Linked DNA regions of Homo sapiens. The protein of the gene in region 1 purifies or fractionates together with the protein of each later gene. This does not show direct contact. Each region holds a gene or a part of one and is shown on either strand. Other genes may lie near its edges.

Region 1 (4,359 bases):
CTTTGGTCTTCTGGGCAGTCAGCCTCCCGTTTTTTTCCTTTGGAGCTTCCTGAATACCCATCTCCTGGGAATTGTGGAAACAGCTGGCTAAGCCCATGAGGCTCACCCTGTAGAGCCATTTATTTGAATGGATCAAATCCTATTCCATGGGAAGGGCCTCCAGCCAGTGCAATTCCAAATCCCAATGAGTCCCTAAGAGAGGTGCAGGGCCCTTACCTCTGTAAGAGACCCCTCTGAGATGCCATTAGAGCCTATCCTTAATGAATAGTATTAGAAGCCTCCAAGCTAGAGCAGTCAGGTGGGGGCACTGAGAAATTCTGGACATTGGAACAGACATTATCTCCAGCCAAAAATTTGAGTCAGCATCATAGATGTCTCCAGCCCTTTGTTTTGAACCTGTTTGTACCATGTCAGGGCCAACCTCCTGGCCTCGAGGTAGCAATCACTACTCTTTCCCAGGCTGAATCTTTTATAATTAATCATTAATGATTCACGGCATGCCATGCACTAGCTTCTTTTTGTTTTTTTTTGTTTGTTTGTTTGTTTTTAGACGGAGTTTTGCTCTTGTTGCCCAGGCTAGAGTACAATGGCACTATCTCAGCTCACTGCAACCTCCTCCCGGGTTCAGGCAATTCTCCTGCCTCAGCCTCCCAAGTAGCTGGGATTACAGGCATGCACCACCACACTCGGCTAATTTTGTGTTTTTAGTAGAGATGAGGTTTCACCATGTTGGTCAGGCTGGTCTTGAACTCCTGACCTCAGGTAATCCACCCACCTCAGCCTCCCAAAGTGCTGGGATTACAGGCCACCACGCCTGGCCCATGCACTAGGTTTTTAGTTAGATTCAGTAAGCACACACTGAGCCCTTACTGCCTGCCAGGCACTGCGGATCTAAAGGGGTACGTATCTACCAGCTTGCTGACCCTTGAAGAACTTGCAGTCTAAGAGGGGAGACAAACACCTAAACAGATTATTGCAGAGCAGGGATGAGAGCTTACACCCACAGAGGAGGAGCATCAGCCTGGGGCTCAGGGAGGGCTTCCTGCTAAAAATAATTTCTGAGTTGAATCTTGAGGGGTGAGTAAGAGTTAACCAAGGGCAGAAAATTGGGAAGAGCATTCCAATCAGAAAGAGTGACAAGAGCAAAGCTACTGGTGCAAGAAACAGCACGGTGTGCATGGGAAATAATAAGTAGTTCATTCCTGGAGGATAAAGCAAGATAAAGATATTTGAGGACTAGATGGGGAGTACAGGAAATGTAAGTTGCAGTTCCTGCCCTAAAAGGAACTCATTCTATTTGGGGAAACAAGATATACCCAAATGACATGACATAAAAACATGCAAGATAGAATCTTGATAAGTTCTAAGGTATGTGGGCGTTCAAAAGCTCCTCTAATACAAGGTAGAGAAAACTAGCTTCCTGTGCTGGGGATTCCTCCACAAGTGCTGCTCTTCCCCCACCTCCTGGCAGCCCTAGGGTGCAGAACACACAGGAGACCTCAATCTAATGGCAGCACATGCCTGCCTGGGGCCTGCCCCAAAGGCTCCTGCTAGAGAAGTTGATTTGAAATAGGCTCCAGGTCCCGAGGGAATGCCTTTGTTCAAGCTCACCAAAAAGCCACCCCAAGTCCTCCTACCTTCTCTGACAGAAAGAGGGCTCTAGGAATAGACCACACACACACACACACACACACACACACACACACCCCTTCTGTTCCCACTCACACTTCCACCTGCAGCCCCGCTCATTCCTTCCACTATGGCCACACTTCCTGTACACTCCCTGAAAAGTCAGCGTTTCTCCTGCTTGCCCAGAGGCAGACAAGGGATGCACCAGGGTGGACTGTAGAGCAGCAGCCAACCACATGCATCAGCCCAAACCCAGTAAGCAGTGCCGCTGGGCCTTGTGGCTGCTATTGCACAATCCAGCACCCACGCCACAGGTCACAGAGAATTTGCATCTCACAATGTGCCGCAGCAGGCTTTGGGCCTCCTCTGAGCCTCCCCGCTAGACCCTCCACCTTCAATAGTTCATTCCCAATGCGTGAGCTAAATGTACGCTTTTCCCACCCTGCTGGGCTGCCCACCACGACCTCCATCTCTGAAGCACATTCCCAGGATTCAGGTTCCTGGCTTGTCATCCTTTACAGATATGTTTTGATGAATAATGGGAAATTCATTTCTGAGCAGCCACACCGATGTCAGTGTGGGAGAGACCTAAAGCTTGTTGTCATGGTAATTACTACCACTTGTTGAATGCCTACTATATATAGATGCTGTGCACAGATTTATTTCTTTTAATCTTCATAAAGTCATATTATGTCTTCTAGGAAAGGATGCTGAGGCTTTGAGATGCTTAAATGATGTGCCCAGGGTCTAGAAGGTAATTACCAACCTTCTAACATTTGAACCTACCCTATCCGGTGGGATCCTGTCCCTGTTCTTCCTCTTGCTCTGGAGAAACTCTGGCTTCCCCCACAGCACCTGTGTGGGCTCTCGGGGAGACAACAGGCTCCTCAGCCTGGCCAGTCTTCCTCCAGCTCAGGCCAGGCTGTGGTGGAGGCCAGCCAGCTCAAGGCTTGGTGCTTGTAAGGCCTGGCACAGGTTTACTCCGAGCCCTCCTCTGCACAGCTAAAAGACTTCTGAAAGGCCCCAGTTGTGTCTCTGGGTGAAACTGGTGCCCACACCTAAAGCAAAACAGGAAGACTTTTCCAAATTCATTTTTAGGGCTTTGGAGTTTTGAGAGCAAGAAAGAACCATAGCAATTTCTTCCATCCCCTTCATTTTAAAGATGACGAAATTGAACATAAGCAATTTACCAATGGTCGTACTTAAAGTCAGTTAGTAGCCAAGTCAAGAGTTAAAACCAAGGTCCTGGTCGGGGGCGGTGGCTTATGCCTGTAATCCCAGCTCTTTGGGAGGGCAAGGAGGGCGGATCACGAGGTCAGGAGATTGAGACCATCCTGGCTAACACGATAAAACCCCATCTCTACTAAAAATACAAAAAATTAGCCAGGCATGGTGGCAGGCACCTGTAGTCCCAGCTACTTGGGAGGCTGAGGCAGGAGAATGGCGTGAACCCGGGAAGCGGAGGTTGCAGTGAGCAGAGATCACGCCACTGCACTCCAGCCTGGGTGACACAGGGAGACTCCGTCTCAAAACAAACAAACAAACAAAAAGCAAAAACAAAAACAAACAAACAAAAAGGTCCTCTGACTCCCAGCACACTAGGACGCCTTTGACCCGCATGTTCAAATGAACTCATATATAATGACTTTATTGATTTTGCATTTTTGTGTATTGTCTTCTTGGCTCTCTGAAGTCCTCCACACAGTGGTGCTCAGCTCTCTAGGTCTTCCCTAGCAAGCACTACTATCTGTGGGGATAGGGTGGGTAGGGAGAAGAACCATTTTCATTCTCATTGTTTTTTTTTTCTTTGTTTGTTTGTTTTGAGGTGGAGTCTTGCTCTGTCTCCCAGGCTGGAGCGCAATGGTGCAATCTCGGCTCACTGCAACCTCCACCTCCCTGGTTCAAACGATTCTCCTGCCTCAGCCTCCCAAGTAGCTGGTATTACAGGCGCCTGCCACTGTGCTCAGCTAATTTTTGTATTTTTTAATAGAGACGGGGTTTCACCATGTTGGCCAGGCTGGTCTTGAACTCCTGACCTCAGGTGATCCACCTGCCTTGGCCTCCCAAAGTGCTGGGATTACAGGCATGAGCCATGATGCCCGGCCCATTCTCATTGTTTTAACAAATGCCAAGAGACCCAGAGCTGAGGCTAGGAGGGCCCAGCTACCCTAGCTGCAGCGCCACGCCTTGTTCTACTAGGCTTACTTTCTCCGATGCCCTCAAGGGGTCTTTCTGGGGGAGCCCCTTGGCCCCTGTTGTCCAGTCATGCCTGAATCCCCTCACAAAGGCCTGAATTTAAGTACTGGAGAGGAGAAGAACAAGGATGATTCCAAATGCTTGTTTTCCTTGGGGAAACAAATGGGAGACTCAAAGAGATGCCTGGCACTCCAGGCTGCTATACAGTGCGGAAGTGCTGCCCAGGTGGAGAATCTGATGCCAGTGGAGTTGGCAGGTGTATGAGTTTGCGAGGGCTGCTGCCGTAACAGATTACCACAAACTGGGTGGCTCAAAACAACAGAAACGTCTCCTTTCATGGTTCTGGAGGCCGGATGTCTAAAAGCAGAGTGTCAGCAGGACCTCATTCCCCACTAAGGCTCGAGGGGCGGCTCCATTCCATGTTTCTTTTGGCTCCTGGTGGTTGCCAGCTTCCTTGACTTGTGGCCACATCACTCCAGTCTGCCTCATCTTTGCCACACCTTCTCCTCTGTGTGTCTCTTATAAGGACCTGTG
Region 2 (4,982 bases), on another chromosome or scaffold:
CGCCCGGCCCATTTCTCCCTTTCCATGTCAGTTTCCTCATCTGTAACATGGGGGTGGGAACAGGACCCAGTTTACTGGGAAGTGGAAGGATTAAACAAGCTGATTTTGGAAAGACCCATTAGTGATTGGCTGTTTTATTACTGAGCATCTAAGATCTTGCAAACCACATTCACTAACAAATATGTGTCACTTAATTTTTTTTTTCTTTTGAGACAGAGTCTTGCTCTGTCACCCAGGCTAGAGTGCAGTGGCACAATCTTGGTTCACTGCAATCTCCGCCTACCAGGTCCAAGCAATTCTCCTGCCTCAGCCTCCCGAGTAGCTGGGATTACAGGTGCCCACCACCATGCCCAGCTAATTTTTGCATTTTTAGTAGAGATGGGGTTTCGCCATGTTGGCCAGGCTGCTCTCGAACTCCTGACCTCAGGTGATCCACCTGCCTCAGCCTCCCAAAGTGCTGGGATGACAGGAATGAGCCACCGCACACGGCAATTTTTGTAATGTATAGATCAGGCCAGGCACGGTGGCTCACGCCTGTCATCCCAGCACTTTGAGAGGCCGAGGCGGGTGTATCACCTGAGGTCAGGAGTTTGAGACCAGCCTGGCCAACATGGCGAAACCCCATCTCTACTAAAAATACAAAAATTAGGCCGGGCATGGTGGCTCACGCTTGTAATTCCAGCACTTTGGGAGGCCGAGGCGGGTGAATCACTTGAGGCCAGGAGTTTGAGCCTAGCCTGGCCAACATGGTGAAATCCCATCTCTACTAAAAACACAAAAAATTAGCTGGGTGTGGTGGCGGGCACCTGTAATCCCAGCTACTCAGGAGGCCGAGGCAGGAGAATCGCTTGAACCTGGGAGGAGGAGGTTGCAGTGAGCCGAGATCGTGCCACTGCACTCCAGCCTCAGCAACGAGAGCGAGACTCAGTCTCAAAAAATAAATAAATAAAAAATATTAAAAAATGAAATGTATATATCAGAAACCAGCTGGGTGCAATGGCTCACGCCTGTAATCCCAATATGTTGGGAGGCCGAGGTGGGCAGGTCACTTGAGCTCGGGAGTTCGAGACCAGCCTGGCCAATAGGGCAAAACCCCATCTCTAGAAAAAATACAAAAATTAGCTGGGCGCAGTGGCATACGCCTGTAGTCCCAGTTACTCAAGAAGCTGAGGCAGGAGAATCACTTGAGCCCAGGAGGGGGAAGTTGCAGTGAGCTAGGATTGCACCACTGCACTCCCGCCTGGGCGACAGATGTAAAACCCTGTATCAAAAAAAAAAGTATATCTCAGCAGGGCGCTGTGGCTCATGCCTGTAATCCCAGCACTTAGGGAGGCCGAGGCAGGCAGATCATGAGGTCAGGAGATCAACACAAGCCTGGCCACAATGGTGAAACCCTGACTCTATTAAAAATACAAAAATTAGCCAGGCATGGTGGTGCGCACCTGTAATCCCAAGCTACTCGGGAGGCTGAGGCAGGAGAATCACTTGAACCCGGAGGCGGAGGTTGCAATGAGCTGAGATCGTGTCACTGTACTCCAGCCTGGGCGACAGAGCAAGATTCCGTCTGAGAGAAAAAAAAAAGTATATCTCAAAGTATATCTCATAAATCCCTTACCCTGCCTTCATCTTCTCCTGTGAGCCACACCACTTCAGTGGGCTGCAGTCAATTATTCATTCAACAAACATTTGTTAAGTACCAATTGTGTATTTGGATTATCCAGACTGAGAAATCAGGTGGAAGGAAAAGCGACATTTGGGAGTTTAGTTTGACCGTAGTGCCAAAAGCTAATTCTGCCCAATAAATTAAGTTGACAATAACACCAGCAATGACAGTAATCATGATAATAAAATCACTGAGAGCCAAGCCCATGCCAGACCCAAGGGCTCCACATCCATTAACTGGATAATCTTCAGAGACAAACCCAAAAAGAGAATTATATTAATACGCTCATTTTCTTTTCTTTTTCTTTTTTTAGAGGCAGGTCTTACTCTGTAGCCCAGGCTGGAGTGCAGTGGTGCAATCATAGGTCACTGCAGCCTCGAACTCCTGGGCTCAAGCGATTCTCCTGCGTCAGCCTCCTGAATAGCTGGGACTACAGGCACACACCACCGCACCTGGCTAATTTTTGTATTTTTTTTCTAGAGACGGGGTTTTGCCATGTTGGCAAGGCTGGTGTCGAACTCCTGAGCTCAAGTGACCCGCTTACCTTGGCCTCCCAAATTGCTAGGATTACTGCGTGAGCCACTGCACCCGGACCCATTTTCCATTTGAGAAAACTGAGGCAGGGAGTGAGAAGTCACCAGTCAAAGGTTTCTTCAGAGCTCTGCCCCATTCCCTACCAAGAAAGCATCCACTTCCTCCTGGGCCATCTGGTCCTGGACTCCACCCACGCCGGTCTGAGGGCAGGGGTTTGACTGGGGCCTGGAGCCAGGCTGAGTTCAAGCTTAAGGGCAGCAGCCGGCACAGAAAGGCTTGCTGTTAGATGTGGCCTCTGGCAACGCCCCAGTGGGGGCTCTGGGCTCCGTCCTTTGGAGGTGTACGTGCCCCAGAGGGAGTTAGAGCCCCAGTTAGTGAGGCCGGAGCTGCCCTAGTAGGGTCCAGCAGGCAGAAGCGGTGCCCAGCCCACCCCAAAGGAGCCAGCAGGAGGAACTCGGTCCCGCTTGTGTTGTGGGGAGGGCTGTGTCTGGCCCCATGGGAGGACAGCAGGCAGGGGGCACGCGTGGACCCGTCCCGATGGGGGCAGCGGGCAGGGGCATGCGTAGAACCGTCCCGATGGGGGTAGCGAGCAGGAAGCACGCGCGGACCCGCCCAGAAGAGGACAGCGGGCAGGGGCTCGCGTGGACCCACCCCTATGGGGACAGCAAGCAGGGGCTCGCGTGACCCGCCTGATGGGGACAGCGGGCTCGACTCACCATAGCGCCGTGCGCTCCCGCGGGTGCCGCAGCCGCTCGAGTGCGCCCAGCGTGGTGGGCAACGCGTGGGCCGCGTTTCGCGCCAACAGCGCGATGAGCACGCGCGGCGCCTGCAGGGGCGACTCCGGGCTCCAGCGCTCCTCGGGGAAGTAGGCGTCGGCGCCCGGCGGGGCCCCCGGCGGCAGTGGCGCCAGCAGCAGAAGCAGCAGCGCCAGGAGCGGCTGCCCGCGCCGCCGGCCCGCGCGTGGGGCCGCCGCCATCGCGCCACGCGTCTCCTTTAAGTCGTTTTTCTGCGGGAGGACTCTGGCCGCGCCTTAAAGGGGTCATAGGGGCCCCGCCCGGCCGCGCGCCTTAAAGGGGAGGAGCGCGCCGGGCGTGAAGTCCAGGCCCCGCCTCCAGACGCTCTCCGAGTCCCAAGGCCCGGAGTGACGTCACCTGCAGCCCTACCCAGGACGCCCCGCCCCCGCACCGATCTTAAAGGCACATAGCGCTCGGAGCGCGTGGAAGGGATGTTAGGGGTAGCGTTAGGGTTAGGAACCCGCGCTTCCTCCAGGCGCCTCCTACCACTGAGACCTCCGCCAGATGCGCCGCCCAATTTCCCCATGTATAAAACCCGGGCTGTGCCACCAGGCGGACTTGGCTACTTAGGACCTGGTTTGGGACCCAAGAGACCTTAGCCTCAGTTTCCTCTGCTGCAACGTGGGTTTTGCCATCCTGGTTTTGGATCTCACAGGGATGTCATTGAGGGTTGTGGAGAATAAAGGTCATGACGTCCACAGACCTGGCGTCACATTCAGTCCCCGCCTTGGGCTTGCTATATGTGAGCCTCAGTCTGTCCATCTATAAAATGAGATCATAGAGACCCTATAGGGTTGGCGTGAAAATAGAGCCAGGGCATGATAATGGACCGTTCTGGGCACAAGCTCTTCCAGAGACAAGGGCCATGTTTTCATGGAAACGCTGTCAAGGGATTGTTTTCCAATACTCTAGAGCCGCATTTTCAAATTGATTGACTTAGTATCACACTTTTTTTTTTTTTTTTTTGAGACGGAGTCTGGCTTTGTTGCCCGGGCTGGAGTGCAGTGGTGCAACATAGCAAGACCGTGCCTCTATTTTTAAAAACAATAAAAACTTTAAAAAATACATCTGAACATTATTATTATTATTATTATTATTTTCTTTTTTTTTTTTTTTGAGACAGCGTCTCACTCCATTGCCCCGGCTAGAGTACAGTGGCGCGATCTCGGCTCACTGCAACCTCCGCCTCCCGGGTTCAAGCGATTCTCCTGCTTCAGCCTCCTGAGTAGCTGGGACTACAGGCACGCGCCACCACGCCCGGCTAATTTTTGTTTATAGTAGAGATGGGGTTTCACCATATTGGCCAGGCTGGTCTCGAACTCCTGACCTCCTGATCCGCCCACCTCAGCCTCCCAAAGTGCTGGGATTACAGGCGTGAGCCACCGCGCCCAGCTTATTATTATTTTCACAGAGAGGGTCTTACTCTGTGGCTCAGGCTAGAGTGCAGTGGCATGATCACATGATCATGGCTCACTGCAGCCTCAACCTCCTGGGCTCAACTGATCCTCCTGCCTCAGCCTCCCAAGTAGCTGGGACTACAAGTGCACTCAACCACGCCCAGCTAATTTTTAAATTTTTTGTAGAGATGGAGTCTCGCTATGTTGCCCCGGCTGTTCTCAAACTCCTGGTCTCAAGTAATCCTCCCCCTTCAGCCTCCCAAACTGCTGGGATTACCAGTGAGCCATCATGCCCCGCTAAAACTTAATTTTTAAGAATGATACAGGCCAGGTGCAGTGGCTCACGCCTGTAATCCCAGCATTTTGGGAGGCTGAGGCAGGCGGATCACTTGAGGTCAGGAGTTCGAGACCAGCTTGGTCAATATGGTGAAGCCCCCATCTCTTCTAAAAACACAAAAAATTAGCCGGTCATGGTGGCGCTTCGCCTGTAATCCCAGCTACTACGGAGGCCGAGGCAGGAGAATCACTTGAACCCAGGAGGTGGAGGTTGCAGTGAGCCAAAATCGCACCACTGCATTCCAGCCTGGGTGACAG

Evidence for each region. The genes of interacting proteins can lie anywhere in the genome.
Region 2: the proteins of RCSD1 (region 1) and COLGALT1 fractionate together in Homo sapiens (co-fractionation; one large-scale study listed by BioGRID). This does not show direct contact.

What each region holds. Positions count from the first base shown.
Region 1 is NC_000001.11:167,636,060-167,640,418, forward strand, and holds part of RCSD1 (capZ-interacting protein), read left to right. Parts: intron 1-4,359. UniProt on the Homo sapiens protein: Stress-induced phosphorylation of CAPZIP may regulate the ability of F-actin-capping protein to remodel actin filament assembly.
Region 2 is NC_000019.10:17,553,905-17,558,886, reverse strand, and holds the start of COLGALT1 (procollagen galactosyltransferase 1 precursor), read right to left. Parts: upstream 3,239-4,982; 5' UTR 3,174-3,238; coding exon 2,914-3,173; exon of another isoform or gene 2,352-2,913; coding exon of another isoform or gene 2,341-2,351; intron 1,461-2,340; exon of another isoform or gene 1,443-1,460; intron 1-1,442. UniProt on the Homo sapiens protein: Beta-galactosyltransferase that transfers beta-galactose to hydroxylysine residues of type I collagen. By acting on collagen glycosylation, facilitates the formation of collagen triple helix. Also involved in the biosynthesis of collagen type IV.